7 linked regions of the Homo sapiens genome follow. The protein of the gene in region 1 interacts with the protein of each later gene in a pairwise test. Each region holds a gene or a part of one and is shown in the gene's direction. Other genes may lie near its edges. The genes, in order: WFS1, TLR10, TUT7, ZNF696, ZNF791, POLR3F and DPYSL5.

Region 1 (4,243 bases):
GCAAAGACACTCCCGAAATGAGAGTGAGGGTCACAGGTGAACGGGTTAACTTGGAGAAGACCCTTGGGCCAGGCGGCCATGGCCCAGGTGTCCCAGTTTATGCCATCTGGTGTAAGTACTATTATAATAATGCCTCCTTGCATATGCGTCCTGTTCGGAAAATTATGTCACCTAGTTATGGATGGTGAGTCTAGTGTTGTGTAGCATCTGAAAATCCTATTTATTTATGTTACTTAATGACAGGGTCTCGTTCTGTTGCACAGGCTGGAGTGCAGTGGCACGGTCACAGCTCACTGCAGCCTCAACGTGCCAAACTCAAGTGATCCTCCCACCTCAGCCTCCCAAATAGCTGGACTACAGGCATGTGCCACCACACCCAGCTGATTTTTTTGAAAACATTTTGTAGCGATGGGGGTCTCACTATTGTTATCTACGCTGGTCTCAAACTCCTGGGTCAAGCGAGCCTCCCACTTTGGCCTCCCACACTGCTGGGATTCAGGCGTGAGACACTGTATCCAGCCTGAAAGTCCTTTTTAGAAGGGAGAGATTTAAGCTGTTTTGACAAGAAGTAAACAAGACTCTGTTTCCCTTTAGTTTTGGATGCTGTCAGAGCACTTCGATTCCTTTGCAGTTTGTCTTCTTAGAAGTCTCTTGTGAGGGAGGCAATGAATCGTCACAAGCGTCTCCCAGGGCTGAGAGCTGTCCCACCTTTTAGTAGCCTTTTGTAGAACAAGGAGAGGTCTTCACTCAAAGTGAAAATGACAGACACCTCTTTGTGAGCCACCCTTACTCCCACAAAGAATGTTCCAGACTCCACACAGTTCTCTTCTGGAGCCTGGAGGTGCAAGCTGTCATCGTAGATAGAATCCTCTGAAAACAAACTTAATATCTTAAAATCGTAACATTTTTAACATTACATAATTGGAAGATCCGACACGGGAACATTTTTGCCCACAGGTTTGAGCAGAATCTCGTCTCGGCTCCCTTCCCCAGCCTGCCTTCTTCACGGGTCCGCTGGGCCATCGGTGTGGTGACGCTGCTTCCTGGTTTCTCGTGGCAGCAGAAGGGCCGATCACCACAGGCCCAGACAGAGAGCTCTGCAGTGTTCTATTCATAGAGGCAGACTCCTCATAGTTTTTAAGTTTCGTTCTTTTTCCATCTCAGGAGTTGAATTTGTTTGGACCTTCTTTGCAGAAAAGGAGACTGAACTTTTTAATCCCATGTCAGAGGAAGGTCTTGGGTGTACATTGCAGGGAGCAGAAATTGGGGCTTTAAAAAGGGGATCGTTCCCTGGTCATCGAGTTCAGGTGGGGGACCAGCCCCTCCACACTGTCCAAGCAGAGGCTAGACGCCATCCAACGTAATGTTCTAGAATATTCCTTGTCTTTTAAAGGCCCTCTCAACCAGGTGGTTGTGTGTGTTCTAGGCAAAAGAATGTGCATGGCTTTGAGTAAGACAGGATTTCAGATTTATTTTTACCAAGGCCACCCCCTTGCTACCGTGGCGGTCGTGCGTGAAACTGGTGGTGAGCAGTGGCGGGCCAGGCCACCTTTAGTTGTCCTGCTGTTCGCAAGGCCCCCATACGGGGATTAACTGAGCAGCCTGCCGGCTGACGCACATGTTGACTCGTGTAGCTGTTGATTTTAGCCAGCTGGCCTGGCGTCATACTACAGGGGCTTGCCCCAAACAAACCCTGGAGTAGGTTGGTTTTCATAAATGCCCTCTGGCTCTCTGGCAAGCGTTGGAAATGCCCTCAAACCCTGTAGTGCCTGGTCTTCCCTGGCCATCTCCTGGCAGTGTGAGCGCCTCTCTGCTCATGTAGAAGGTTGTTGACCCCAGAGAGAGCTAGGGGAGCTGTTAGCTGCTTTAATCGTTTATTTGCTTGTTATAAAACAGAGATTAAGTGGACTGTCACAAATATACATGAAGCAGCAGAGCTGTTCCCCCACGTGTAGACGTGCATGCACACACTCCTAAACACTTCCGTTTCTTCCATGAGCCTGTCCTTCTCATCTGTGGAAGGCTCAGTCTGTGTAGACATGCATGCACACACTCATAACACTTCCGTTTCCTCCATGAGCCTGCCCCTCTCCTCTCATCTGTGGAAGACTCAGTCTTCTGGTTGTTTCCAGGTGTCCTGGTCCTCCAGAGCTGATAGCCAGGCTGTTGGCAGGTGAGGGCCACATTCTGGTGTTGTCACCTAGTTGCCATTCACCTGGGATCCCTCCTTGGCCTTCTGGTGGGCCTGGTGGAGAGAACCTGCCCCAGGGGATTTGTGGGGTCTGGTGCTTCCCCGAGGCCCGGAGCTGATGGGGGGCTCCAGCCTGGATGTGTCATGTAGCCCCTCAGTGGGCCCTGGACATGCAGCCAGGCTTCCCTACCCCCATGTGGGGCCGCCCCCTAGGCGTCCACTTCCTGGTGTTGGTCCAGGCCCCTGGCACTTCTGAAGATGCACAGAACCTGCTTTGTATGCCACGCCATGCTGTGTGAGCACTGGCACCATGGCCACTTTGTCCCCCATCCCCTCCAGTCCCTCTGCCTGGCTGCCCTGTGTTCTGGCAGGGCTCAGGGCCTCTGAGTTCTGCACAGACCAGGAAGGCATGAGGGCTGGCCCTGGGTGGCAGCGCTGCTTCACCCCATCCTGAGGCTGCTCCCAGCATGCCTCCCTCAGCCCTCTGCTCCTCTTGGCTGTGGTGAAGGCCAAGAGCTCTTTCTGACCTTAGCGCTGCATGCAGAGCAGGGGAGCAGGACCCACAGGTCGGGGGAAGGCAGCCTTTGGCCTTGACTATGGGGAGGTAGGGGTGCGCTGGTGTGTATGTGTAGGTGCACACGTGTAGGGGTGGGTGTGCATGTGTGAGGGTGCACGTGTGGGGGTGGGTGTGCACGTGTGTGTAGGGGTGGGTTGCGTGTGTGTGAATGTGTATAGGGGTGGGTTGTGTGAATGTGTGTGTAGGGGTGGGTTGCGTGTGTGTGAATGTGTGTGTAGGGGTGGGTTTGAATGCAGGTAGGTTGCGTGTGTGTGTAGGGGTGGGTTGCGTGTGTGTGAATGTGTGTGTAGGGGTGGGTTGTTTGCGGGTAGGTTGCGTGTGTGTGAATGTGTGTGTAGGGGTGGGTTGTGTGAATGCGGGTAGGTTGCGTGTGTGTGTGTAGGGGTGGGTTGCGTGTGTGTGAATGTGTGTGTAGGGGTGGGTTGTTTGAATGCGGGTAGGTTGCGTGTGTGTGAATGTGTATAGGGGTGGGTTGTGTGAATGCGTGTGTGTAGGGGTGGGCTGCATGTGTGTGTGTAGGGGTGGGTTGTGTGTGTGTGTATGGGGTGGGTTTGTGTGAATGCGTGTGTGTAGGGGTGGGTTGCGTGTGTGTGTGTGCACGTGTGTGTACGGGCAGAAGGTGGCCTGGCAGCTGCTTCTCAGGGTCTCCGGCCATAGGGAGGGCAGCTCACCCGGCAGCCCCGTGCAGCTGAACGGTATTTTTGCTGGGAGAGTGGTGCTGGGCCCTCTGCCTGTGTCTGCACTGAACTCCCTTTCCCTAATGCTTGCTCTGCCACCCCTCCGGGGACTGCCTGCGGCTTCTCCTCCTCGTAAGGATCGCCATTTCCCTTCATGGAGGCTCAGGGAGGTGACATCCTTGCTGTAGTGCAGAGCTGGGTCACAAAACCAGCTCCCAGACAGGCATCTCAGGGCTCCGTCATCTCTTCATGTGGGTGACCCTGAGGGGAGGGAAGTGGGGAGCCCGTGGGTCCCTCCAGTGCTGGAGGTCTTGCAGGGAGAGAAGCACACATGCATCTAGTCACGCTGGTAGAAGGTGGGGAGCCAGGCACGGGGCAGAGGGGGGCTCCAGGCCCAGAAGAGGGAGGGCTCACAGGGACCGCGAGCATGGGGAGGGCCACCTGGAGAAGGGGGGAGGGAGGACCACTAGGATGGGGCTGGTGATGGGAAAACGCAAGGGTGCGGGTTCCTTTTGCCCAGAGGCAGGGTGGTCAGAGGGAGGCGTGAGATGGGAGCAGTGGGGGTCCTGTCCCAGCCTCGTTCCCACGTACCATCTTTCCCCCAGGTGGTCAAGTACCCCCTGCACGCCATCATGGAGATCAAGGAGTACCTGATTGACATGGCCTCCAGGGCAGGCATGCACTGGCTGTCCACCATCATCCCCACGCACCACATCAACGCGCTCATCTTCTTCTTCATCGTCAGCAACCTCACCATCGACTTCTTCGCCTTCTTCATCCCGCTGGTCATCTTCTACC
Region 2 (4,939 bases), about 32 Mb from region 1:
TGAAAAAAACCTCAAAAATGTTGCTTTAAAAATTGATCCGTACTTTGCGATCTACATTTTAAAAAATACCATGCTTATTTTACCACTTCACTTCAAGAAAAGGCCTCTAGGTCAGAGGTCTCCAATCTTTTTGGCACCAGGACCAATTTCATGGAAGACAGTTTTTCCACAGACCGGGTTTGGAGATGGAGGAGAGATGGTTTCGGGATGATTCAAGCACATTACATTTATTGTGCACTTTATTTCTATTATTATGACATTGTAATATATAATGAAATAATTATACAACTCACCATAATGTAGAATCAGTGGAAGCCCTGAGCCTGTTTTCCTGCAACTAGATGGTCCCATCTGACATGATGGGAAGCAGTGACAGATCATCAGACATTAGATTCTCATAAGGAGCACGCAACCTAGATCCCTCCCATATGCAGCTCACAGTAGGGTCCAAGCTCCTATGAGAATCTAATGCTGCCACTGATATGACAGGGTGTGGAGCTCAGGTGGTAATGCAAGCGATGGGGAGCGACTGTAAATACAGATGAAGCTTCATTTGCTTACCCACCACTCACCTCCTGCTGTGTGGCTCGGTTCCTAACAGGCCATGAACTGGTACCTGTCTGTGGCCCAGGGGTTGGGGACCACTGCTCTAGATAACTCCTTTCCACCCTCTTCCTGCCTGATTGCTGAAATTATGGAGTCACCATTCCTACTCCTGCCCATCATCACATGACTGCCCCACCCAACTGATGAAAGGGATAACCGACCTGCACCTTGAAGAAAAGCATCATCAAAGAGCTCTAAGATGCTGTGGAAAACCAGTATGGTAGTTCTGCAAAAAATTAAACAGAATGGTCATACGATCCGTGAATTCCACTTCTAGGTATAGACTCAAAAGAATGTTAAGTACCAACTTAAATAGATATTTGTGCACCACGTTCACAGCAGCATTATTCACAAGAGCCAAAAGGTGAAAACTACCCAAATGTCCATTGATGGATGAATGAATGAACAAAATGTGGGACGTACATACAACAAAATAGTATTCAGCCTTAAAAAAGGAAGGAAAGATTCTATTATTCTATGTAATAATAATAGAAATGATATGGATGAACCTTAAAGACATTATGCTCAATGAAATAAGCCAGTCACAAAAAACCAAATATGGTATAACTCCACGGACATGAGGTACCTAGAGTAGTCAAATTCACACAGACAGAAAGTAGAATTATAGTTTCCAGGGTCTGAGGGAAGGGGAAAATGGGAAATTATTTTTTAATGGCATAGAATTTCAGTTTGGGATGACGAAAAATCTTTGGAGATGGGCAGTGGTGGTGGTTGCACAACAGTGTGAATGTACTTAATTAATGCCACTAAATTGTACATTTAAAAATGCTTAAGGTCAGGCGCGGTGGCTCACACCGTAATCCTAGCACTTTGGGAGGCCGAGACAGGCAGATCACTTGAGCTCAGGAGTTCAAGACCAGCCTGGGCAACTGGCGAAACCCCGTCTCTACAAAAAATACAAAAAACTTAGCCAGGCCAGTTGGTGAGCGCCTGTAGTCCCAGACATTTGCGGGACTGAGAAGCCCAGCCTCTTGCGGGCTTTAGCGCAAGAGGTCAAGGCTGCAGTGAGCAGTGATCACACCACTGCACTCCAGCCTGGGTGACAAAGTGAGACCCTACCTCAAAAAAAATAAAAATAAAAATAAAAATAGAAAGATGGTGAGCATGATAACTCCTATGTTATGTGTATTTGACCACAATTTAAAAAAGTGCTAAGATTATAATGAATATATATAACATGCAATACCAGTAGCATGCAGAAGAGGGCGGATGGGGTTTAAGCTTTACAGAAAACCTCGATTCAATTCCCTCCTGCAGCCAATTCTGACCGTGTCAACGAATCATCCACGCACCTGCAGCTCTGCTGAGAGAGTGCAAGCCGTGGGGTAAGAACCTTAGCTTTGTTTGTTGTAACTCTCATTAAAAAGATATAAGGGCTGCATGGGTATTTTCTAAAAAGGAGATAATTTGAGCTAATATTGAGGGGAGGGAAGTAGGGTTATTTAGATTTTTAGTATTTACTATTTTGTCTAGATTAATGATTAGTGACCTTGGGGCTATTGATCTGAGGAATTTCTTGCAGATGCTTGAGAGCGTGGGTTTCTTTTCACTGATTGCGGATCAAACCTGGTCAGCTCTTCTATTCAGATTGAACGGTCCTATGCACTGTGGCAAGTTTTTTCTAGCTCTTATTTCCCCACAGCGTATGTTAACCTCTGCTGGATGAAACCTTTGGCTATTTAAGGCATATTTGTTGCTCCTTTACCCCGTTGAAAAGTTCTGCATTTGTGTTACCTGTTTAAAAGTAGGGGCAGATCTGATGGATCTTGTACAATGCAGTTCTTATTCCGTTTCCTTCAGAAGTGGACAAAGAGGGCCATATGTGGTTGCTGTAAAGAAGAGGATGGTTAACAACCTGTGAGCATTTGGTTTCTTGATAAGCTTTCTCCCAGACCACCTACACTGAGCTATTAATTAGGAATAGGATGCACTTCGAGTTTTATTTCAATTCTTGTGAACTTATAACTTTCCTAAGAATATATTTATACATGTAGGCAAAGTCTCTTGAACTTTGTGGCACCTAGCAGAGTGTCCCACAGCAGCTGCATGAAGCTTCATAGACAGGGGCATGGGGTGAGAAAGGAGGAAGTGGCCGCCATGGCAGCTGGTCAGATCAATGGATTCAACCTCAGTGATTCGGTCCTTAGGATGTCGTTACATCTTAAGCCACCTCATTTCAAGGTTTGAGGTGCCTTGCATTTGGGTTTAGTTACCATCCAGAAGGAACCAGACAGGTCTGGGTTCAAATCTCTGCTTCTTCAGTTGGTCATCTTGGGCAAGTTACTTTACCTCTGGGCTTTAGCTCCTCCATCTGTAAAATATGAATAATAATGGCCGCCATTTTGTTGAGTCATTGAGGGATTAAACAAGGTAATGGACATAAAACACTTAGCTCCATGTCAGACACGTAGGAAATACTGAAAAGAAGTCATTCTTACTCTTATGTTGCAAAGATCATTCAACATTCAATAGGTTCTTAATCTCTTTTCTATTTCTTTATATCATTGGGAAAAGATAAATTAGATGATTAAATATTCTTTGGTAAAACACTAGTTGTCATTTGATGATGTCTTTTGACTTGGACTTTTAAATTATAAGATATTAAAGATGTATTAAGGAAGGTCATTCTCTGTTTTTTACCTGCTTTTAACGTAGTAGTAGGGATATGATATTAACATATATATACTATTTATAGACTACATCACCAACATGGTGAAACCCCATCTCTACTAAAAATACAAAAATTAGCCGGGTGTGATGGCAGGTGCCTGTAATCCCAGCTACTCAGGAGGCTGCGGCAGGAGAATCGCTTGAACCTGGGAGGTGGAGCTTGCAGTGAGCTGAGATCATACCACTTTACTCCAGCCTGGGCAACAGAGCGAGACTCCATCTCAAAAAAAAAAAAAAGTGTATGTCCTACTTTTAAAATTGCTTTAATGAGGCCAAGCACAGTGGCTCACACCTCTAATCACACCCATTTGGGAGGCTGAGGTGGGAAGATTGCTGGAGGCCAGGAGTTTAAGAGCAGCCTTGGCAACATAGTGAGACCCTGTCTCTATGTAAAAGTTGTTTTTATAAAATGTCATAATGCATAAGTATTGCCTGAGAGATAGGACCTTTACTATTGTTATATTAAGAGAAGTTCAAAAAGAGTTCCTCTCCCATTGTAGTCCCAGATAAGACTGTGGTATTGGGCAGGGGGAAGAAGTGGGTAAGAGATAGAAACTCTGACTTCTCAGCGCAGAGTTCCAGCTAAAGCAACTGGGTTAGATTCTGCTGCATTCTTAAGGGGCCATGGCTCTAAGACCTAGAAGCTTAAAGTCAATTGCTACAAATTAAGCACTCTATGAGAGGATAACATTAAAAGCACCTTTGTCAACCTAATGATTATAACTGCCAGGGTCCTATCAAGCCATAATAGAGCCTGAGGCAAAAGAAACAATCAGCAATACTGATCCTGTCTTTATGAAAAATTTCGATATTTTGTTCAACATAGATTTTTGCATTAATTTTCATTTTTAAAAATATTTCATGTAAACATTATCTTGATTACTGAGTTCCTTGGGACCCCCTTAACATTTATGCCTTCCTTGCTTCACCCGAGTCTTGACCTGATAACTGCCACCATTTATTAAGTGTGATATGCTAGGCATGGTACTAAGTGACTTACATACATTGTCTTATGCCTCTTCACAAGCTCCATTTTACAGATGACAAAACCAGATCTTTCAGAGATTAAATAAATGGTCCGAGTACATAGCTAATGAGTGGATGAATGGTTAACATTGGATTTGAACACAGATCCATCAATCACTAAAACCAAACTTATTCTTTTTTTTTTTGAAACTGAGTCTTGCTCTGTTGCCCAGGCTGGAGTGCAGTGGTGGCATCTCAGCTCACTGCAACCTCCACCTTTTGGGTTCAAGTGATTATCCTGCCTCAGCCTCCCGAGTAGCTGGGACTACAGGCACATGCCACCACGCTCAGCTAATTTTTTGTATTTTTTTAGTAGAGACAGGGTTTCACCATGTTAGCCAGGATGGTCTTGATCTCCTTACTTTGTGATCCACCTGCCTCAGCCTCCCAAAGTGCTGGGATTACAGGCCTGAGCCACCGCGCCAGGCCTACCAAACTCATTCTTCAACCATCATGCCCTGCACTGTATCAGGAATTCACAACATAAATTCATTCATTCAACACATATTTATGAGAGCATATTATGCATCACGTTGTACTAAGGATTAAAACGTTGAAATTCATACATACAAGGATTCATTCATTCATATGTGCATTCAACAAGCAGTAATGAGCA
Region 3 (4,243 bases), on another chromosome or scaffold:
TATGGATAAAGAGGTAAAATGTAATAATGCTTAAAATTTCTGGGGGGTTTATTTGTGTCCTCAAACTGTAGTGTTTGGGACTTAGACAACTTCCATTTTTAATCAGTTCTGCCTTGTAAAGCCACCAGATGACTTTGTATTACTTGACAGAACCTTTGTGATTGAGAAAAATAGACCACTGATTTTGAAGCTTAATATAATAAAGTATGATTGAAAACAAATTTGTGCACCTTAGAGGAAATTACTTTTTTCAGTGTGAATTATAGGAAAAGCTATTGCTGTAAATCCATTTAATGCTTTATTTTTACATTTTTATGTTATTTGGAAAGATTAATCATGCTGCCACTTCTGAAATAAAGTGAGCTTCAGACATTATGGGGTTGCATATGGTGTGCACTGTACTGAGATCAGGAGACATTGAGACATTGTTCTCATCCGGCCACTGCCAGGCAGTGCAACCTTCTGACAAGCCATGGGCACTCGTGGGGCTTCAGTTCCTTCTCTTGTAATATACAGGAGTTGAACTAGATTACCTCTTAAGAGCATCTTACAGTGGTGACATTGTGTTTCAGTGATATATGGATTTCTTGTACTTAAAAAGGCTATACCTACGTGGAAAAAATACAGAGAGCAACCAAGTCTGCCAGATGCTTTCCCTTGTTTCTGATTTAATCCTCATCACTATCCTGTGTTATAGGTGGTATCATCCCTACTCTGCAGATAATGATAGCGACCATTTTTTGAACACTGTGTGCCAGGCACTGTGCTAAGCACTTTACAGACACTATCTCACTCAGTCCTCCCAACAACCCTATGAGGTGGGTACTGTTATCCCCATTTTTCAGATGAGGAAACCCAGACTTAGACAGATTATAGACCTTGACCCAGATCATACACAGCTAGTACATGGCAGAGTTTGGATTTCAGATCTAAGCTTGTCCCAATTCCAAAGCCTGTTCTCTTAGCCACTGTGCTGTGCTACCAGTCTGAGAATGAAGAAGCTAAGTCACAGAGCAATTAAGAGCTATGACGTGGCAGAATCTCTATTTGGGCCCATATTTTCCCCTATCCTAAGTAATATGTACTTTCTAATATATTACATCGCAGTTATGTTCCAACTTGTCAGAAGTCTGTAACTGTAAAACCAGTGTCAATTTCTGATGGCAAGAGTTATTTGACTTTAAAATCAGTTGTCACTGACAGAGTCAATGTGCTTATGTAGCTTCTCAGGGCAGTGAGAGGAGTGTTTTTCCTTTTTCTCTATGCCTTTAGCTACTGTCCATTTTTGTGTGTCTGTGACTGTAAAGGTGCCTCCAGCAGCAGTAACAGGAAGAGTTCAGTGCTGAGAATATTAGCAACCCATGCACAGTCCTCTCCACCTGTTATTAACAGTTCAAAATTAGGAGCTCTGTCTGGTTAAATAAAACTGATCCTGTCTATTCCTGTGATAATGACTGGATTATAGCATACTCTAATCCTAATAGTGCAGTGAAGTAATGCTGTTTTACCACAAACAAAATAGAAGTTAGAATTGATTTATCTAGATGGATTGTCAGGCTTATATCTTTGTTAAGGTTTTCCAGATTTTTTTAATTTGATGCTTAAATGATCTTTAATTTTCCAGATTGTACTTACATCTGAAATAACCTGTATGTTTCTCTTTGCTATTAATAGGTGTCATTAATATTGGATGTGAAACACCAGCCTTCAGTACCAGTTGGGCAGCTCTGGGTGGAATTGCTGCGGTTCTATGCTTTAGAATTTAATTTGGCTGATTTAGTGATAAGTATTCGTGTCAAAGAATTGGTATCTCGGGAATTGAAGGATTGGCCCAAAAAGCGCATTGCCATTGAAGGTATCTCAAAATGTTTATCTTATTCCCCCCCACTCTTTTTTTTAAAGGTACCAGTCTAACAGCATGCTTTTTATTTCAGTCTCTTTTCAGCTCCTACAAGTAAGGTAGGCCTGCCCTCAAAGGGAAATAAATAGTTAGAATCTTGCATGTGTTAACAGTGGGTCATTTCAAGGAATCAAACTGTTCACCCTGGGTTTTTAAAGTATAAACAACTTGAATAATGGCTGGCTGAGTCCTTGCTTTCTTTGTAGATTGCTTAACCACTTAAATGCCTAAAGTATGTTTTTCACAGTGATGTGTAAATCCCCCTTTCCTCTTTACCATTCTCACCTCTGGATTTTTTAATTCAGTCCTTTTGTGGATTGTTGAAGTTGTTTAGTTTTGCAAAGGTGAGGACAATACTTTTTCTCGTCAAAAATGTCATTCTCCATTGGATTCCTCTCCAGTAGAGAGAATGAGTAGTTATTTTTGACATATCTACAGTAGCATTTAGAACTTATTCATAAAAACACATTTTTAGTGAAGCCTCATTTAACTGAAATCACTTTATCAAAGACACACTGATGTGCCCTGTAGACATCATTAAATGGACTAGCTCTTCTCAGCTTTGCAAAGTCAGGAGGTTGAAACCCCTCTAGAAATCTTAATTCTCCTCCTTTAAATAATTTAAAGAACCTCCTAAATGGAATTCTCTTATTTTTGCTTGATTTTTTTTTCAAGCTTTATGTTGCATAAGAGGGTTTTTTGCATTTTGCATAAATTCTGTGTGCAGTCATGGGGATCTCACATTTTTAAACCCTCCCCTGCAGTTTCTGTGGCTCAGCTCTTCTGGCCAATTGCCTAACCTGCTGGAGTTCTAGGGGAGGAGAAAAGATTGAGAGAAGTGGTGTCTCCTCCTGGTGCCTCCCTCTCGCCCCTGAAATTCAGTCCAGCCAATTCAGTGATGGGGCTTCCCAGGGCAGAAGAGTGGAGGTAAGCTCGATAAACCACAGGGCCTGGCTGAGTGGGGAGGCAGAGCACTCAGCAGCAGCAGAGCCTGGTGGGAAGATCTTCCTTCCCAAGGGCCTGAGAGCCACGCTGATAACATCTTTTCTACCTCCACAGTCACAGAGCACAATAGGGAGAAGGGGTACTGGTTCTGAACAGAATGGGTTCCCTTCATAGAGCCGATGTTTCAGAAAATACTGCTTTTTGTTCTTAAACTCTGTTTTCTTACTCCCCACCCCCAGTTTTTTTTTAAGTCTATAAAATGCAAGATAAATTTTACCATTGTTTGTTGTCTGTTTTTATCTGCAGCAGGCTAATTTTTAAAACATGAAATATAGTAACATATGAAGAGATGGATTTTTCTTTCTTTCTTTTTTTTATTACAGATCCCTACTCTGTTAAAAGAAATGTGGCAAGAACCCTAAATAGTCAACCTGTGTTTGAATATATACTTCATTGTTTAAGGACAACATACAAGTATTTTGCTCTTCCACACAAAATTACAAAATCCAGCCTTCTAAAGCCTCTGAATGCAATTACATGTATTTCAGAACATTCTAAAGAAGTAATAAATCATCATCCAGATGTACAAACAAAAGATGATAAGCTCAAAAACTCAGTTTTGGCCCAAGGTCCTGGTGCTACCAGTTCAGCTGCAAATACCTGTAAGGTACAGCCACTTACTCTTAAAGAGACTGCTGAAAGTTTTGGAAGCCCACCAAAAGAAGAAATGGGAAATGAACACATCAGTGTCCACCCTGAAAACTCAGACTGTATCCAAGCAGATGTTAACTCTGATGATTACAAGGGTGATAAAGTATACCATCCAGAAACAGGAAGGAAAAACGAGAAAGAGAAAGTTGGAAGGAAGGGCAAGCATCTGTTGACTGTTGATCAGAAACGTGGAGAGCATGTTGTCTGTGGCAGCACACGTAATAATGAGTCAGAGAGCACTTTGGATTTAGAAGGCTTCCAAAATCCCACAGCTAAAGAGTGTGAGGGACTTGCCACTTTAGATAACAAGGCTGATCTTGATGGAGAAAGTACAGAAGGTACTGAGGAACTAGAAGACTCTCTAAACCACTTTACCCACTCAGTACAGGGCCAGACATCAGAAATGATTCCCTCTGATGAAGAGGAGGAGGACGACGAAGAAGAGGAGGAGGAAGAAGAACCTAGGCTCACCATTAACCAAAGGGAAGATGAAGATGGCATGGCTAATGAAGATGAGTTAGACAACACCTACACTGGGTCAGGGGATGAGGACGCCCTATCTGAAGAGGATGATGAGTTAGGCGAAGCTGCTAAGTATGAAGACGTGAAAGAATGTGGAAAACATGTAGAAAGAGCTCTCCTAGTGGAACTTAATAAAATAAGTCTCAAGGAAGAAAATGTATGTGA
Region 4 (3,761 bases), on another chromosome or scaffold:
TCCACCACGTATGTGTCCCCTTCTCACCATAGTCTTGGTTCTTTTTCCTCATAAGCAATACCTTTGAGTCAGTTCTTGAACTTCCAAGTCTGCAAACCACAAGACCAGGGCTGGGCCTCTGCCAAGGGGCTTCTGTTCTGCAGGCCGCCCTGAGCGCCTCCCGCCCCCTGGCTGCTCAGTGTCAGGGGTCTGCAAGGGCAGAGAGAGGTGGGGACTGTCGATAGCAGCCTGCTCTCATCTGCCCTGGAACATCCCTGCCCCACCCCCACCTCCACAGGAGCTTCCGTCTTATCTGCGCCCTCCACATTCTTGAGAGGTGCAGCTGGGACTCAGCCGCTTCTCCTCTGCTGCCACAGCGGACTGCCTGCAGACTGAGAAGTCCTCCTCAGTTGCTGTGCTGGCCTCGTTGGCCCCCCTCCTCCTGCTGCCCCTCCTGGCTGAGTCCTCCTGCCTCCTATGCAGGCCAAGCTCAGTTGCCAGCTTTCTCATGTCCCAGGGTTTCACCCCTACCCCTTAAGCCTTTTTTCTAAATGGCCACATGGTCTGTCCCTGTGAGCCAGTGGAACCAAATCTAACCAGTGGCTTGACTGCCAGACAAGGGCCATTGATAACGCAGCCTGGATGGGGTTGCTCAGCCTGACCAGCGCCGCCGCCGCCCAGCCCACATGGGACGTGGGTTGCTGCTTCCAGCTCTTGTTCCGGATTTCTTTTCTTTTCTTTTTTTTTTTTTTAAGACAAAGTCTTGCTCTGTCGCCAGGCTGGAGTGCAGTGGCGCCAGCTCACTGCAATCTCCACCTCCTGGATTCAAGTGATTCTTCTGCCTCAGCCTCTCAAGTAGCTGGGACTACAGGTGTGCACCACCACACCCAGCTAATTTTTGTATTTTTATTAGAGATAGGGTTTCACCTAATCTTGATCTCTTGACCTCGTGAACTGCCCACCTCAGCCTCCCAAAGTGCTGGGATTACAGGCGTGAGCCACCGCGACTGGCCTCTTGGTCCGGATTTCTGTCTGAGTGAGGACGCTCCTGTTTGCACATAACAGAAGCCCTTAGAGTTTGGTGTTTGGGGGCAGTTGTTAAGGAGTCTGCGTTGTCTCAGGGAGTCCAAGGTAAAAGGAATGAGCTGGGGCCATGGCTGGGTGTGGTGGCTCACACCTGTAATCCCAGCACTTTAGGAGGCTCAGGTGGGAGGAGGGTTGAGCCCAGGAGTTCAAGACCAGCCTGGGCAACACATTGACACACTGTCTCTACAAAAAATTTTTAAAATAGCCTGGTGTGGTGGTGCTCACCTGGAGGTGCGCCACCTACTTGGGAGGCGGAGGGAGGATCACTTGAGCCCTGAGGCTGCAGTGAGCCATGATGGTACCACTGCACTCCAGCCTGGGTGATAGAGCAAGACCCTGGCTCACAAGAAAGGAAGGAAGGACAGACAGAAGGCAGAGCTGGGCCGTGGGCTCTGTTGGGTGCCACTGTCCCCGGGCCTCCTGCTACATCTGCCTCGCTCCCGTCCTGGCTTGCTGCCAGCTGTCTCCAGCCTCCTTTGCTTTCCCAGCTGTCCCGCAGAGTAAGGCAGTGCCCAGAGCCTGCGTTTCTGTCCCCTCCCCTCCCAGGACTGGGTGGGCCGAGGCTAGAGGTTTAGCCCTGTTTCTAGCCCCGTTTAGCCTCGTTTCTGTTTGTATATTTTTAAAATTCTATTTTTTTAAGAGACAGGATCTCACTATGTTGGCCAGGCTGGTCTTGAACTCCAAGTCTCAAGTGGTCCTCCTGCCTCAGCCTCTGAAAGTGCGGAGATACAGGTGTGAGTCACCACATCCGGCCCCACAGCCCCGTTTCTGGAGTGGCAGTGCAGGATTCTCGTCTACCTCATAACCATGGGGGTTAAGAAGGTGGGGAGGAGAAAAAAACTAAAAAAAACGAGGCGGGAACTGAATGGGCAAAATCAAAGGTGTCTGTGGCACACTGACGTCACCATCACTGTCACTCTGTCGTCACCACGATTGCCAGAGCCACCCTCGACTCACGTTCTCTTACATCTAAAATCGTTCCTGTCTGGCCTCTTTTTCAGCTGTGAAGGCTGCTTTCCTGGCGCAGGCCCCGAGTGGCAGCCGGTCAGCCGAGGTGCAGGCAGCTCAGAGCACGGAGCCTGCCGCAGAGGCAGGCGCTCCCGAGGGAGAGGGCCACAGAGGGGGGCCTCCCCGGGCGTTGGGGTCTCTTGGCCTTTGTGAAAACCAGGAAGCCAGAGAGAGGCCCGGAGGTTCCCCTCGAGGCCCGGTCACTTCTGAGAAAACTGGAGGACAGAGTGGCCTCGAGTCAGACGTCCCTCCGAACGCAGGCCCCGGCGCAGAGGGCGGGGGCAGCTGGAAGGGGCGGCCTTTCCCGTGCGGCGCCTGTGGCCGCAGCTTCAAGTGCTCCTCGGACGCGGCAAAGCACCGGAGCATCCACTCGGGGGAGAAACCGTACGAGTGCAGCGACTGCGGGAAGGCCTTCATCCACAGCTCGCACGTGGTCCGGCACCAGCGGGCGCACAGCGGGGAGAGGCCCTACGCGTGCGCCGAGTGCGGCAAGGCCTTCGGCCAGAGCTTCAACCTCCTCCGGCACCAGCGCGTGCACACGGGCGAGAAGCCCTACGCGTGCGCCGACTGCGGCAAGGCCTTCGGCCAGAGGTCGGACGCCGCCAAGCACCGCCGCACCCACACCGGGGAGAGGCTGTACGCGTGCGGCGAGTGCGGGAAGCGCTTCCTGCACAGCTCGAACGTGGTCCGGCACCGGCGGACCCACCACGGGGAGAACCCGTACGAGTGCCGGGAGTGCGGCCAGGCCTTCAGCCAGAGCTCCAACCTCCTCCAGCACCAGCGCGTGCACACGGGGGAGCGGCCCTTCGCCTGCCAGGACTGCGGCCGCGCCTTCAGCCGCAGCTCCTTCCTCCGCGAGCACCGCCGCATCCACACCGGGGAGAAGCCCCACCAGTGCGGCCACTGCGGGCGCGCGTTCCGGGCGCTGTCGGGCTTCTTCCGGCACCAGCGACTCCACACGGGCGAGAAGCCGTTCCGCTGCACCGAGTGCGGCCGCGCCTTCCGCCTGAGCTTCCACCTCATCCAGCACCGGCGGGTGCATGGCGCCGAGTGAGCCGGGGCTGCGGCGGAAGAGATGCCGGCGGCCTGGTGGGCGCGAGGCCGAGGCCGGGGGAGGCTCCTGTCCGCCCCGTGCGCGGTGAGGAAGTAACAGCCGGCTGCGCGCCTGGTTCTCGGGTTGCGAAAGCCTCGCCAGGCCTGCATCCGCCTTGGCTTGGGAGCAATCAGGAGAGACAGGGCTCGGGGAAGGCGAGCGCTGCCCGCGGGAGGCGATTCCCAGAGGCGGGGAGGTCTCAGGGGTCTGTCCCGGGCCGGCCGCCCGCCTCTGAGACTCCCCGCCTCCCACGGTCAGCTGCTGCGGGGCAGTGGCCGGTGATTGAATCGGTCATTCCTCCGCAACCAGGCCTCCATCAAAACCCTGCATGAGATGAGGGCCTCGGGCTTCGGGTTGGTGAAGGCGGGGTGGGGGGGCAGTTAGGAAGGGGGCGCCCAGACAGGGCATGGAAGCCTCGCGTCCTCCCCCGTACCTTGCGGGTCGGTGGTTCATCCATGTATTTCAACGCCTTTTCACAGCCGGTTCATATGGTCCCGACTTCTGTGTGCTTAGAAAATTATGGAACTTGGCCGGGTGCGGTGGCTCCCGCCTGTAATCCTAGCACTTTGGGAGGCCGAGGCGGGCGGATCACACG
Region 5 (4,243 bases), on another chromosome or scaffold:
TTACAGAGAGCACCCAGGCATGCAGATGGACTTGTCACGAGGGAGAGCTCCCTGGAGCCAAATTTCTTCCTGCTCAGACCATAGTCCTAATTACTTAAGAAAACCCCTTCTAACTGTGTGGATCTTTTAACGTATGGTGCACATGAGTGCATGGAAATGAGAGAACCTGGGACAACAGCCCCTAGAGTGTCTGTCTGGGATCACTTCCTCCTGAAACTGGAGAAAGGGGATTTATGTTCTTTTTTTTTTTTTTTTTTTTTTTTGAGATAGAGTCTCGCTCTGTTGCCCAGGCTGGACTGCAGTGGTGCGATCTTGGCTCACTGCAACCTCTGCCTCCCGGGTTCAAGCGATTCTCCTGCCTCTGCCTCCCGAGTAGCTGAGATTACATGCATGCACCACCATGCCCAACTAATTTTTGTATTTTTAGTAGAGGCAGGGTTTCTCCATGTTGGCCAGGGTGGTCTCGAACTCCTGACCTGAGGTGATCCACCTGCCTCGGCCTCCCACAGTGCTGGGATTACAGGCATGAGCCATCCTGACCCAGATTTTATGTTCTTTTGGAGGTATGAAATTACCTGTTAATTTTATAATCATGGGCAAATTCACCATCAGACCATTGTGGACATCAGTGAAGTCCCCTGAAAATTGATACTGTCAATCTATTCTTCAAGGTCAGCAAAGCCCAGATGACATGATTATGGATCTTCCAGAAAGTGCTCTTCTGACATTTTATCTCAATGTGTATATGTATTTGTGCTAAAAATTGGTTGGAAGCAGTTCTGAGGCTCATGGGTATAACGATTTTGTGAAAGTCTAAGTTGTGAGGGCCCCTTCCTTGTGCCTGAGCTGTCTTCCCAGTAACTTCCTAGTCTCACGAAATGGGACAGAAAGTAAAAGGAAAAACTGGGTCTATGATAGATATTACACACACAGCCGGGCGTGGTCGCTCATGCCTGTAATGCCAACACATAGGGATATATATATATCGGAAACAAGTTGAAATTAATACGTCTCTAAAAGAGTATTTCCATTCAGTCAGCAGAATCTGAGTGCTTCTGATGGCCTCAAATACTTCAGGACGATATAGGCAGCTAGACCTTCTTAAAAGTTGGATTTCCACAAGCCTCCTGGCCTCTCATGTATAACAAAAGGGGATAGAAGATTCTCAATGTGTATTTACTTATTAAAACCTCCACCTCGGTGGGGGGTCAGCCCCCCTGCCCGGCCAGCCGCCCCGTCCGGGAGGGAGGTGGGGGGGGTCAGCCCCCCCGCCCGGCCAGCCGCCCCGTCCGGGAGGTGAGGGGCGCCTCTGCCCGGCCACCACCCCGTCTGGGAGGTGTGCCTAACAGCTCATTGAGAACGGGCCAGGATGACAATGGCGGCTTTGTGGAATAGAAAGGCGGGAAAAGTGGGGAAAAGATTGAGAAATCGGATGGTTGCCGTGTCTGTGTAGAAAGTAGACATGGGAGACTTTTCATTTTGTTCTGCACTAAGAAAAATTCCTCTGCCTTGGGATCCTGTTGATCTGTGACCTTACCCCCAACCCTGTGCTCTCTGAAACATGTGCTGTGTCCACTCAGAGTTAAATGGATTAAGGGCGGTGCAAGATGTGCTTTGTTAAACAGATGCTTGAAGGCAGCATGCTCGTTAAGAGTCATCACCACTCCCTAATCTCAAGTAATCAGGGACACAAACACTGCGGAAGGCCGCAGGGTCCTCTGCCTAGGAAAACCAGAGACCTTTGTTCACTTGTTTATCTGCTGACCTTCCCTCCACTATTGTCCCATGACCCTGTCAAATCCCCCTCTGTGAGAAACACCCAAGAATTATCAATAAAAAAATAAATTAAAAAAAATAATAAATAAAAAAAATAATAAAAAAAAGACTGTCTCAAACAAAAAAAAAAAAAAAAAAAAACCTCCACCTCATTTAATCCCATATCTTAAGGAATGCTGAATGATTTGGGTAATAAGAAATTAGGCTGTGGGCTGGGTATGGTTATTCATACCTGTTATCACAACACTTTGGGAGGCCGGGGCAGGAGGATCACTTGGGGCCGAGAGTTAAAGGTCAACCTGGACAATATAACAAAACCCCAGCCGGAGGCAGTGGCTCACGCCTGTAATCCCAGCACTTTGGGTGGCCGAGGAGGGTGGATCACGAGGTCGGGAGTTCAAGACCAGCCTAGCCAAGATGGTGAAACCCCATCTCTACTAAAAATACAAAAAATTAGCTGGGCGTGGTGGCACGCGCCTATAATCCCAGCTACTTCGGAGGCTGAGGCAGAGAATTGCTTAAACCTGGAGGGGCGGAGGTTGCAGTGAGCCGAGATCGCACCACTGCACTCCTGCCTGGGTTACAGAGTGAGACTCCGTCTCAAAAAAAAAAAAAAAAAGAAAGAAAAAAAACCCATTTATCTGGGAGTGGTGTTGCACATCTGTAGTCCTAACTACTCGTGAAGCTGAGGCAGGAGGATGTCTTGGGGGCCCAGGGATTTGAGGCTACAGTGAGTTAGGATTGCTGCACTTGAGCCTAGGTGACAGAGCAAGACCCTGTCTCTTAGAAAACAACAAACAAACAAACAAGAAATAAGAATTTATCTCATAAAGAATTGAAGATCTTGCCTGTAATCTCAGCAATTTGAGAGGCCAAGGCTAGTGAATCGCTTGAGCTGAGGAGTTTGAGACCAGCCTGGGCAACATGGCAAAACCCCATCTCTACAAAAAATATACACAAAATACTTACCTAGGTGTAGTGGTGTGTTCCTGTAGTCCCAGCTACTCAGGAGGCTGAGGTTGGAGGATTGCTTGAGCCGGGAGGACTAGGCTCCAATGAACTGTGATTGTACCACTGCACTCCAGCCTAGGTAGCAGAGCGAGACCATCTATGTCTCAAAAAGGAAGAAAAAAAAATTGATCCTAAAATTTGTCTCATTTGTGTAGGATTTCTTTCATTTTTCTAAGTTGAACTAGATACTACCATTAGAGAGCAATAGGACTTACAGTGACCACAGTGAAGATGTAGCTATAAGTTTATGTGTTCAATGTGCTGTTACATTTCTAACAATTGAGTCATGCACTAAATGTTTGGAGACCACAAAATCGTGTGTGAATTTCTTATGAATTGAGGATACCTCTCATCCTTGTCAATCTCACCTATTCTCTACTTATATTGGATGTTTCAGGACTCAGTGGCTTTTGAGGATGTGTCTGTGAGCTTCAGCCAGGAGGAGTGGGCTCTGCTGGCTCCTTCACAGAAGAAACTCTACAGAGATGTGATGCAGGAAACATTCAAGAACCTGGCATCTATAGGTAAGGATGACATCATTTTTTCTTTTTTCTTTTTTTTTTTTTTTGGGGGGGGACAGAGTTTCACTATTGTCCAGGCTGGAGAGCAATGGCACAATCTCAGCTCACCACAACCTCAGCCTCCCAGGTTCAAGCAATTCTCCTACCTCAGCCTCCCGAGTAGCTGGGATTACAGGCACGTGCCACCATGCCTGGCTAATTTTTTTCTTTTTAGTAGAGACGGGATTTCACCATGTTGGTCAGGCTGGTCTTGAACTCCTGACCACAGGTAATCTGCCCGCTTCAGCCTCCCAAAGTGCTGGGATTACAGGCATGAGCCACTGTGCCTGGCCTTCTTTTTTTTTTTTTTTTTTGAGTCTCGTCCTGTTCCCCAGGGTGGAGTGCAGTGGCGGGATCTTGGCTCACTGTAACCTCCGCCTCCTGGGTTCAAGCAATTCTCCTGCCTCAGCCTCCCGAGTAGCTGGGATTACAGGTGCCCACCACCATGCCCGGCTAATTTTTGTATTTTTAGTAGAGACGGGGTTTTATCATGTTGGCCAGGCTGGTCTCGAACTCCTGACCTCAGGTGATCCACCCGCCTCAGCCTCCCAAAGTGTGGGGATTACAGGCATGAGCCACCGCACCCCAGTGACATCATTTTTTCATATCGTCAGTTAGAGAACTGCCATTTCTTGCTCATAATCACTGTTCCGAGATTTGGAATCTGAAAAGGAAACACTTCTGTAAATAAACCAGGCATGGTTACAGCTCATTGTGAACCTATAATCTAATAATATTTGTATAATTTTTAATAATTTATCATGATTATTCTTGATCTACATTTTAGGGGAAAAATGGGAAGACCCGAATGTTGAAGATCAACACAAAAACCAAGGACGAAATCTAAGGTGAGTTGCACTCACAAGAAGTAACAGTGTTCCTTGAAAGAATCTTAA
Region 6 (4,243 bases), on another chromosome or scaffold:
TAGATTATCCTATAGTCCTTACCTTACTAATTTTACTTTATTCCACTACAGTAAAATGAAGGGATCCGATAACCAAGAAAAACTAGTATATCAAATCATAGAGGATGCAGGAAATAAAGGTAAGCATGTGAAAGATGAAGCAGAAAAAAACATTGTCTTTGGAACTAGATATAGGGACCCAGATCTCAGCTTCCCAGGGTAGAACTCAGTGGACAGAGTATACTGAGGAAGGTAATAGAACATACAAATATAACATGCATGTGCTTGAAGGACACCCAAGAGTAAGGCCGTTGTTGCCTTGAAAGAGACAAGAACTAAAGGGCTGTGTCCAGGGATGGAAAAAGACGTCTGAATTCTGAGTCACATGAATGTATTATCTATTCAAAATAAATAAAATTTAAGTTTTTTTTTTAAATCTGTACCTTCTAGCTATATGACCATGGACAAGTTACTTAAACTTTGTGAGCTTCAGTTTCTTTATCTTATCTATAAATTGTGGATGCTGACACCTCTCGTTTTTGCAAGGACCAAAAGGAAAGCTGGTGTGGTGTAGCAGTGTCTTAACAGATGTCCCTCCGCAGCTATAGTTTCTCTTCTACCCGCTTGAAGAACTGTATCTAAATTGCAATCCTAAGTTACAATAATTTGGGATCTATTTGAGTCATTGATATTAGCTGGAAAAATTGAGATGTAATCTGAAATTACATAACTAATTCTTATATTTATTAAAATTAACATTTTTAAAAATAGTCCTATGAGAAAGCCATTCTGCATATTTTTTTAATCTTCCTATCTCATATGCCATTACATTGGGAAGAAAATAAAGCAAAATATTTACATACATTCCCTTTCCATATATAACACTTATTTCCTTCTTTGAAAAAGAAATCATTGCTTCTCACACAGGGCTTTTAGCAGCCATAAGAACCCTAGGCTTCCTTTTCCATCTCACAAATACAATGTTGTATAAATAATGGATTACATGCATGCAGACACTCATCTAAAGAGTGTTTTTGTCCCACTTGAGGATGGCAGTTGACCTTGACCCAAATTTAAGTTTGTATTTCACATTTACAATCTAAAATGAAAGTATCAGAAAACAGAGATAAGGGTACAGATGATAAAATTCCATTGCATCCATGATTTTTCCTTCCATTATAAAAACGTCGTTTTCATAATTTTTTTTTTCTTTTTTTTGAGATGGAGTCTTGCTCTGTTGCCCAGGCTGGAGTGCAATGGTGTGATCTCGGCTCAGTGCAACCTCCGCCTCCCGGGTTCAAACGAGTCTCATGCCTCAGCCTCCCGAGTAGCTAGGACTACAGGTGCATGCCATCAGGCCCGGCTAATTATTTTTGTATTTTTAGTAGGGACAGAGTTTCACCATGTTGGCCAGGCTGGTCTCAAACTCCTGAGCTCAGGTGACCCACCTGCCTCGGCCTCCCTAAGTGCTGGGATTACAGGCATGAGCCACCATGCCCAGCCCTTTCCATAAGTTTTTTAAAAGTTTGCCACACTGGGATTCCAAGAAATTTCTAGTTAGAAATTATAAATCATTATAATAAGTCTTACAAAGCATTATACTTATTTATTGTTTAGCATACTTTTGCTACTTTAGCCAGCATTCTTTACTGTTAGCTTTATACTGCTAGCTTTGGAATGAGACACAAGTTAGAGGAATAACATTAAAAATCCATGAAAACCAGAGTTCAACTTATTTTACTTTACTTTCTTATAGGAATATGGAGCAGAGATATCCGCTATAAAAGTAATTTGCCATTAACAGAAATCAACAAAATTCTGAAGAATCTGGAAAGTAAAAAGCTTATCAAAGCTGTTAAGTCTGTAGCAGTGAGTAGTCCTTTCCTCAGATACCCACTTACATATGTTGCTTCAAGTTTTTATTCTTGAAGTTATGTCATGATTTAGAACAGCTGGTCAAAAAAGACTTAAAAATTTAGCTCATGTTGGATTGGTTTGGAGATGCTGCTTAGACTTGTCCCTACACAGTTAGCTCTTGGTGTCTCACTCACCCACTCAAAAATCTAAAACTACTTTACTGTCTTCAGTGAAGAATCTTTGGAACTGTGAACATTTTTCCTAGATTTTGTGGTGTGTAAGATAATTTACTTTATCCCGACATATTAGCTTTCTCATTCAACAAAGAGTGTTTGCTGTGTGCCAGACACTGTTTTGAGTGCTTGGGATACATTAATGAACAAGTCGTAGAAAGATCCCTGCCTTGGTGGAGCTTCTCTTCTAGTACACGTGTGTTTTTCCTGCTCCTCATCCTGCCCCACCCCTGCTCCAGAGCTGGCTCCCTCGGGGACATCTGCCCCTGACCTCACTGATTTAGACATCAGAGGAACTGAGATTCCCCTAGAATAAAGTTTGCTTCAATACACATTTCATAAGAATTACAGCTATAATTCAAATTTTATAATTTCAGAGCTGTTAGGTCTGTGGCAGTGAGTAGACCTTTCCTCAAATATCCGCTTACATATGTTGCTTCAAGTTTTTATTTTTGAATAAAACAAGAATTATAAGAATTATAACATCACTTATAAGAATTTGATGCTTATTAGTGATTTTATTTATCAGAATAGCATTTCCCTTCCACATTGTTTAATGGATAATTTCAAATATATACAAAGGTAGAAAAAATCATATAATAAAACCCTATCATGTAGCCTCATTTTGTCAGTCCTCCTTCTACATCTTTATGTTTAATAACAGCTCTGCTGAAATATAATTCATCATTCATACTACAGAATTCATTCAACCTTTTAAAGTGTAAAATCTTTGGATTTACAGTCACTGGTTTTTACTATAAGCTAAGAGTTGTGCAACCATCACCGCTGTTCTAATTTTAGAACATTTTCATCACCCCCAAATGTGGCCACTAGTATTTGTTTCCCAGCCTCTCTTTCCATAGGCCCTAAAAACGAATAATTTATTTTCTGCCTTTATTATAGATTTGCCTATTCTGGACAGTTCCTATAAATGGAATAATAGAATATGTAGTCTTTTATGTATGACTACTTTGACTTAGCATGATGTTTTCAAGATTTATCCATATTGTGCTTTATTCCTTCTTATTGCCAATTAAAATTCCATTGTATAGATGTATATCACCTTTTGTTCATTCATCCGTTGGTGAACTTCTGTGTCCTTTTAAGGGTTAAAATAATCTTAGATCTCAGTGTAAAGTGCAAAACTATAAAACTTTTTGAAGAAAACATAGAAAATCTACATGACCTTGGCTTTGTTAATGAATTCTTGGACTATAACTCCAATAGTAGTCTATGAAAGAAAATGTTAATAAGTTGGAGTTTATCAAAATTTTTTGAAAACCTCTGCTTTGCAAGACACATTAAGAGAATGAAAAGACAAGTTACATACTAAAAGATATTTGCAAATCACATATTTGATAAAGGACTTGTCTCCAAAATATACAAAGAACTCCTAAAATTCAGCAATAAGAAAACAACACTTTGGGAGGCCAAGGCGGGTGGATCACCTGAGGTCAGGAGTTCAAGTCTAGCCTCACCAACATGGTGAAACCCTGTCTCTACTAAAAATACAAAATTATCCAGGCGTGGTGGCACATGTCTGTAATCCCAGCTACTTGGGAGGCTGAGGCAGGAGAATTGCTTGAACCCAGGAGGCAGAGGTTGCAGTGAGCAAGATTGCACCATTGTACTCCAGCCTGGGCAACAAAAGCGAAACTCCATCTCAAAAAAAGAAAAAAAAAAAAAAACACACAATGAAAACAAATAATCCAACTAAAAATGAGCAAAAGATCTGAACCTCACCAAAGAAGACATACAGATGGCAGATAAGCATATGAAAAGATGCTCTACATTATTTTTCATTAGAGAACTGCAAATTAAAATAAAATTTAGTATAGTGAGATACCACTACACACCTATTAGAATAGCTAAAATCTAAAAATTGGTAATACCATATGCTGACAAGATACAGACCAAGATGAACACTCATACATTGCTAAGAATGCAAAATTTTCAGTCCTTTTGTTAAAAAACTGGGCAGTTTTTACAAAACTAAACAGAGTCTTACCACATTGTCCAAAGGTCAAGCTCTTAAGTATTTACCCAACTGATTTGAAAACTCATGTCCACATAACTACATGAATATTTATAGCAGCTTTATTCGTAATCAGCAGCTTTATTCATAATCAAAAACTGGAAGCAACCAAGGTATCCTTCAATAGGTGAATGGATAG
Region 7 (4,243 bases), on another chromosome or scaffold:
GTGAGACCCTATCTAAAAAAAAAAAAAAAATATATATATATATATATGTGTGTGTGTGTGTGTGTGTGTGTGTGTGTGTGTATATATATATATATATATATATATATGAATTATACAACTCAAATGCCAATAGTACCATGCGCAGAAACCCTAATCTAGGCTAATTTCCGGAGTCAAATCAGCCACTATTTCTCCTTTGCTGCAGTTCTGAGGTGGCTATGGAGAGAATACACCAGAAAACAAGGAGAGACATGACCTTGGGTTTTTATTTACTTTTGTTTCCTTGCCTTTTAATTAAGCCCCAAGTAGCATCCAGCAAGGGCGTGCCTGGTATTGTAAGACCTAGAATTCTCCCTCACTGTGAGCCAAGGTAGTTGGAGGTTAGTGCCTCTGCCCGGGCTTTGCCCCGAGCCAACCCCTATGGGTGCAGTTGCTCCATGAAGGGGAGAGTATGGTGTGGGTATCCTTGGAGGAGATGGTGAAGTTTGGTTTCCTCCTGTCCTTTGTTTCTAACAGCTGGAAGCTGAAGCCACTCATCGTGTTATCACCATTGCAAACAGGGTAAGTCCCCCGATGTCCACTGTGGGATTAGAAACCAACCTTGGCCAGGCACGGTGCTGATGTCTGTAATCCCAGCACTTTGGGAGGCCGAGGTGCGTGGATCACCTGAGGTTAAGAGTTTGAGACCAGCCTGGCCAACATGGTGAAACCCCATTGCTACTAAAAATACAAAAATTAGCTGGGCGTGGTGGCGTGCACCTGTAATCCCAGCTACTCAGGAGGCTGAGGCAGGAGAATTGCTTGAACCCAGGAGGCGGAGGTTGCAGTGAGCCAAGATCGTGCCAACTGCAATCTGTCCTGGGTGACTGAGCGAGACTCTGTCAAAAAAAAAAAAAAAAAAAGAAAGAAAAGAAAAGAAAGAAAGGAAAGAAAGAAAGAAAGAAAGAAAGAAAGAAAGAAAAGAAAAAAGAAAGAGAAAGAAAGAAAAGAAAAAAGAAAGAGAAAGAAAGAAAGAGAAAGAAAGAAAGAAAGAAAGAAAGAAAGAAAGAAAGAAAGAAAGAAAGAAAGAAAGAAAGAAAGAAAGAAAAGAAAGAAAGAAAGAAAGAAAGAAAACCAACCTCTACGATGCAGCCCCATTCTGCTCTGGGTGCCAGCACCATGTCTTGCCCACAGGAACCCAGAGCTGTTTGCTGACTGAGCGCTGTCATGCCCACCATCCTTGCATTCACCCTTCTCACCACCAGCTTTCCATTCCACCCCGCCGAGCCTGCTGAAGCTCAGTTCATTGCTCACGTGTAAACTCAGTCCAGCTCCTAAACTCTACATCCTCCTAATGTGATAAGCAAAGAGAACAGAATAACATCTGGGGAAACAGAATTTCCCAATTGCACTTTAGAGCTCTGGCCGCTGGACAAGGACATTGTTTCACTGTCATGACAATAGTTATTTATCAATTACTTCCTGGTGGAACTTAACCCAGAATAAGGAAAGACCCAAACAACAAAAAGTCAGTTCCTTGCCTTTTAGCTCAAGCATATGCTCAGAGGAGTTAAGCCATGGACCGTGGTTGCACAGCTTAGTAGAGAAAAAGCTAACCAGTATTACAGTCCAGGTGTCCGTTCGCAAGGTCAGCCTTCTCTTGCCTAGACTCTGAACCCTAACCCCCTTGTATTTTGTTCATCTCCAGGGTGCATTCTGTCTACTGATAAGCAGCCTTCAGACAGCAGGCATCGTAATTTTAGATACAGAATACACGACTAACTCTAGGTCATCACGTTTATGAACAGGAAATTAAAATAGGAAAAAGAGTTCCCCCCTTTTAAATTACAGTCATGGTTGTCAGATGGGAGAAAATGCGAGGTTCAGACTTGACGGTCTTGAACTTCACAGGCTGGGCTTCCCGGTGGGCTCTGGTGCTGGAGGCTGTTCTCTGCCTCCCCGTATCATGCAGTTCCTGCAACCTTGCCCTGACTGCCAGCCCTGCATTCTCCGCTTAAGGACTGTCACCTTGAGGGTGGGGTTGAGTGACGCAGGGGGAGGCGCTGGTGCCAGGGCTGACTTTGCCAGGGTTATTCTGATGCTTGTGAAGTTTATGGGTCAACCCTCCCTACTTCCCACTGTTTCTTGTGTTTAGACTCACTGTCCAATCTACCTGGTCAACGTGTCCAGTATCTCGGCTGGTGACGTTATCGCAGCTGCTAAGATGCAAGGTGAGTCCATAGACTTGGCTGGACAGAGCAGGTCAAGTGGAGGGACTGGAGATGGATGGGGCCCATTAGCCGTGCTCACTCCTGGCCCCGGCTCCTGAAACCAGGACCTGAGCCAGCCCTTCCCTTTCATCTGCCACCGTCTTCCTCAGAGCTGCCCTGTGCTATGCTGGCTTTAGTCTGCTAGAACATGAGCTTTTTCTTCTGCAAATTTGTATGCATAACAGCTTTACGGAAGTGTCTGTCACTTCTCCTGGGTCTGGTAACATTTTCCAAGTTTTAAACCCACTCATTAATTAGTGTCTTTTTGGCCTCATAGATTTTACTAGCAGTTGCCTTGGCAACTAACATAAAATGCTGGACCAGTTTCAGTGGGCATTTCAGGGGCTGTTTGGGAAGTCCCTAAAGAAAGAACAGTGTGTGGGCCCAGCTTCCTTTTAGCCTCCTGGAACCCTGTGTATGAGTCCGAGGGGCACTTGTATGGCTTCTGTTGCGGATCGCCTGGCAGTACCTAAAGGCTTGCAGATGCTTGGAGTCCAGCCCCGCCCCAGGTGCTGGTGAGGGCCTGGCAGCAGGAGAAACAAAGTCACAGTCACAAGCCTGGGGAGACAGATCAGAAGCAAGGGCATCTCAGCCTTCAACTATAATCGATCAGAAGCAAGGGCATCCTGGCCTTCAACTCTATCGCCCTCTAGATCCCGCCACCTGCCTCTCCCCTCACTGAAGCCCCTTGGAGGGTCTCGCCTAGACTGTCGTCCCAGCCTGGTGACTGCTCCCACCTCCTGTCTCCCTGTCCTCCAGCCCTGCTACGGCCCTCCCTGTCCTACCACAACCGTTCTCTTGAAGCTGCTCACAGCAACTGCCTGTCCAGAAAACAGTCTAGACTGCTCTTTAGCGTGGCATTCGTGGCCCTGCATGCCTGTTCACCCACCGTCAAGCTCCATCTGCCAACAGCACCCTGCACACACCAGTGCTCTGGTCATCTGGCCAAACCAGACTCCTCAAAGTGCCGCTTGGTCCTGCTGGGCCTCGGTGCCCATGTCCCTCTGTCCTCCTTGCCTAAGTCAGCAGAATAGGGAGGCTCTCTGGGCTTGAACCCAGCTGTGCTCTTAAAAGCCCTGTGAGCTTGGGCAGGTCCCTTCCTGTCTCTGACCTCAGCTCCTTCACCTGTAAAATGAGAGGCACACACCAGCGATCGCTCAGGTTCGGTGGCTTCCTGGTTATGGTTCTGACCTTTCTTCTTCCAGGGAAGGTTGTGCTGGCGGAGACCACCACTGCACATGCCACGCTGACAGGCTTACACTACTACCACCAGGACTGGTCCCACGCGGCTGCCTATGTCACGGTGCCTCCCCTGAGACTGGACACCAACACCTCAACCTACCTCATGAGCCTGCTGGCCAAGTAAGGCGTTTCAGCAGCACATTGCAGGGATGTGTACATCTTTAGGAAGACGTCATAGAGGGCCCAGGAAACAAATCTGAGCTAGGTTTGATTTCATTGTGCCCATAGGATCATTGTGCTTTTCTTACCTTCTCTGAGCCCATCAGATAATTGCCATCCTATTGGGATTTTATGACCGCTTGATATGGAGTGAGATCTTCTGAAGTATAAGAGTGAAGAGCACATATAGAACTGTGAACCGTGGTTATTCGGAATTTCAAAGGACATTGATCTCTTACTCTAAAGCCCAGTGGGGAGCTGCAGAACGTGGCCTGTGACTTATCCTAGAATGTAGGGGTCCTTTCTGTTTCTTTTGTTCACCTCTCCCTCTTCTTGTTGGCTCCCGTGTGCCCCTTGTCTGTACATCCCTCCTTCTGTGGGTTTCTCCTCCTTTCCTTCCCCTTTCCCTTTTTCTTCTGCACTTTCTCCCCCTTTCCTTCCCACACCCTTCCTCCAGATCTCCTTTCTCCAGCTCTTCTATTTCTGACACTGCTTTTTCCCCATGCAATCCCAATCTAAAGGAAATGGTTTGATGAACGGTCTGAATTCAGTGGGACCCAATTATGGAAGGGTTTCTGTTTTATCCCAATAAC

Evidence for each region.
Region 2: the proteins of WFS1 (region 1) and TLR10 interact in binary tests that used the Homo sapiens proteins (3 or more experiments, as listed by UniProt).
Region 3: the proteins of WFS1 (region 1) and TUT7 interact in binary tests that used the Homo sapiens proteins (3 or more experiments, as listed by UniProt).
Region 4: the proteins of WFS1 (region 1) and ZNF696 interact in binary tests that used the Homo sapiens proteins (3 or more experiments, as listed by UniProt).
Region 5: the proteins of WFS1 (region 1) and ZNF791 interact in binary tests that used the Homo sapiens proteins (3 or more experiments, as listed by UniProt).
Region 6: the proteins of WFS1 (region 1) and POLR3F interact in binary tests that used the Homo sapiens proteins (3 or more experiments, as listed by UniProt).
Region 7: the proteins of WFS1 (region 1) and DPYSL5 interact in binary tests that used the Homo sapiens proteins (3 or more experiments, as listed by UniProt).

Annotation. Positions count from the first base shown.
Region 1 is NC_000004.12:6,296,607-6,300,849, forward strand, and holds part of WFS1 (wolframin), read left to right. Parts: intron 1-4,050; coding exon 4,051-4,243. UniProt on the Homo sapiens protein: Participates in the regulation of cellular Ca(2+) homeostasis, at least partly, by modulating the filling state of the endoplasmic reticulum Ca(2+) store.
Region 2 is NC_000004.12:38,779,934-38,784,872, reverse strand, and holds the start of TLR10 (toll-like receptor 10 isoform a precursor), read left to right. Parts: upstream 1-1,882; 5' UTR 1,883-1,952; exon of another isoform or gene 1,953-4,939.
Region 3 is NC_000009.12:86,322,946-86,327,188, reverse strand, and holds part of TUT7 (terminal uridylyltransferase 7), read left to right. Parts: intron 1-1,674; coding exon 1,675-1,855; intron 1,856-2,664; exon of another isoform or gene 2,665-2,827; intron 2,828-3,228; coding exon 3,229-4,243. UniProt on the Homo sapiens protein: Uridylyltransferase that mediates the terminal uridylation of mRNAs with short (less than 25 nucleotides) poly(A) tails, hence facilitating global mRNA decay. Essential for both oocyte maturation and fertility.
Region 4 is NC_000008.11:143,293,674-143,297,434, forward strand, and holds part of ZNF696 (zinc finger protein 696), read left to right. Parts: intron 1-2,066; coding exon 2,067-3,127; 3' UTR 3,128-3,761.
Region 5 is NC_000019.10:12,620,516-12,624,758, forward strand, and holds part of ZNF791 (zinc finger protein 791), read left to right. Parts: intron 1-3,184; coding exon 3,185-3,311; intron 3,312-4,134; coding exon 4,135-4,195; intron 4,196-4,243. UniProt on the Homo sapiens protein: May be involved in transcriptional regulation.
Region 6 is NC_000020.11:18,473,340-18,477,582, forward strand, and holds part of POLR3F (DNA-directed RNA polymerase III subunit RPC6), read left to right. Parts: intron 1-51; coding exon 52-119; intron 120-1,735; coding exon 1,736-1,848; intron 1,849-4,243. UniProt on the Homo sapiens protein: DNA-dependent RNA polymerase catalyzes the transcription of DNA into RNA using the four ribonucleoside triphosphates as substrates.
Region 7 is NC_000002.12:26,931,124-26,935,366, forward strand, and holds part of DPYSL5 (dihydropyrimidinase-related protein 5), read left to right. Parts: intron 1-516; coding exon 517-561; intron 562-2,134; coding exon 2,135-2,210; intron 2,211-3,454; coding exon 3,455-3,611; intron 3,612-4,243. UniProt on the Homo sapiens protein: Involved in the negative regulation of dendrite outgrowth.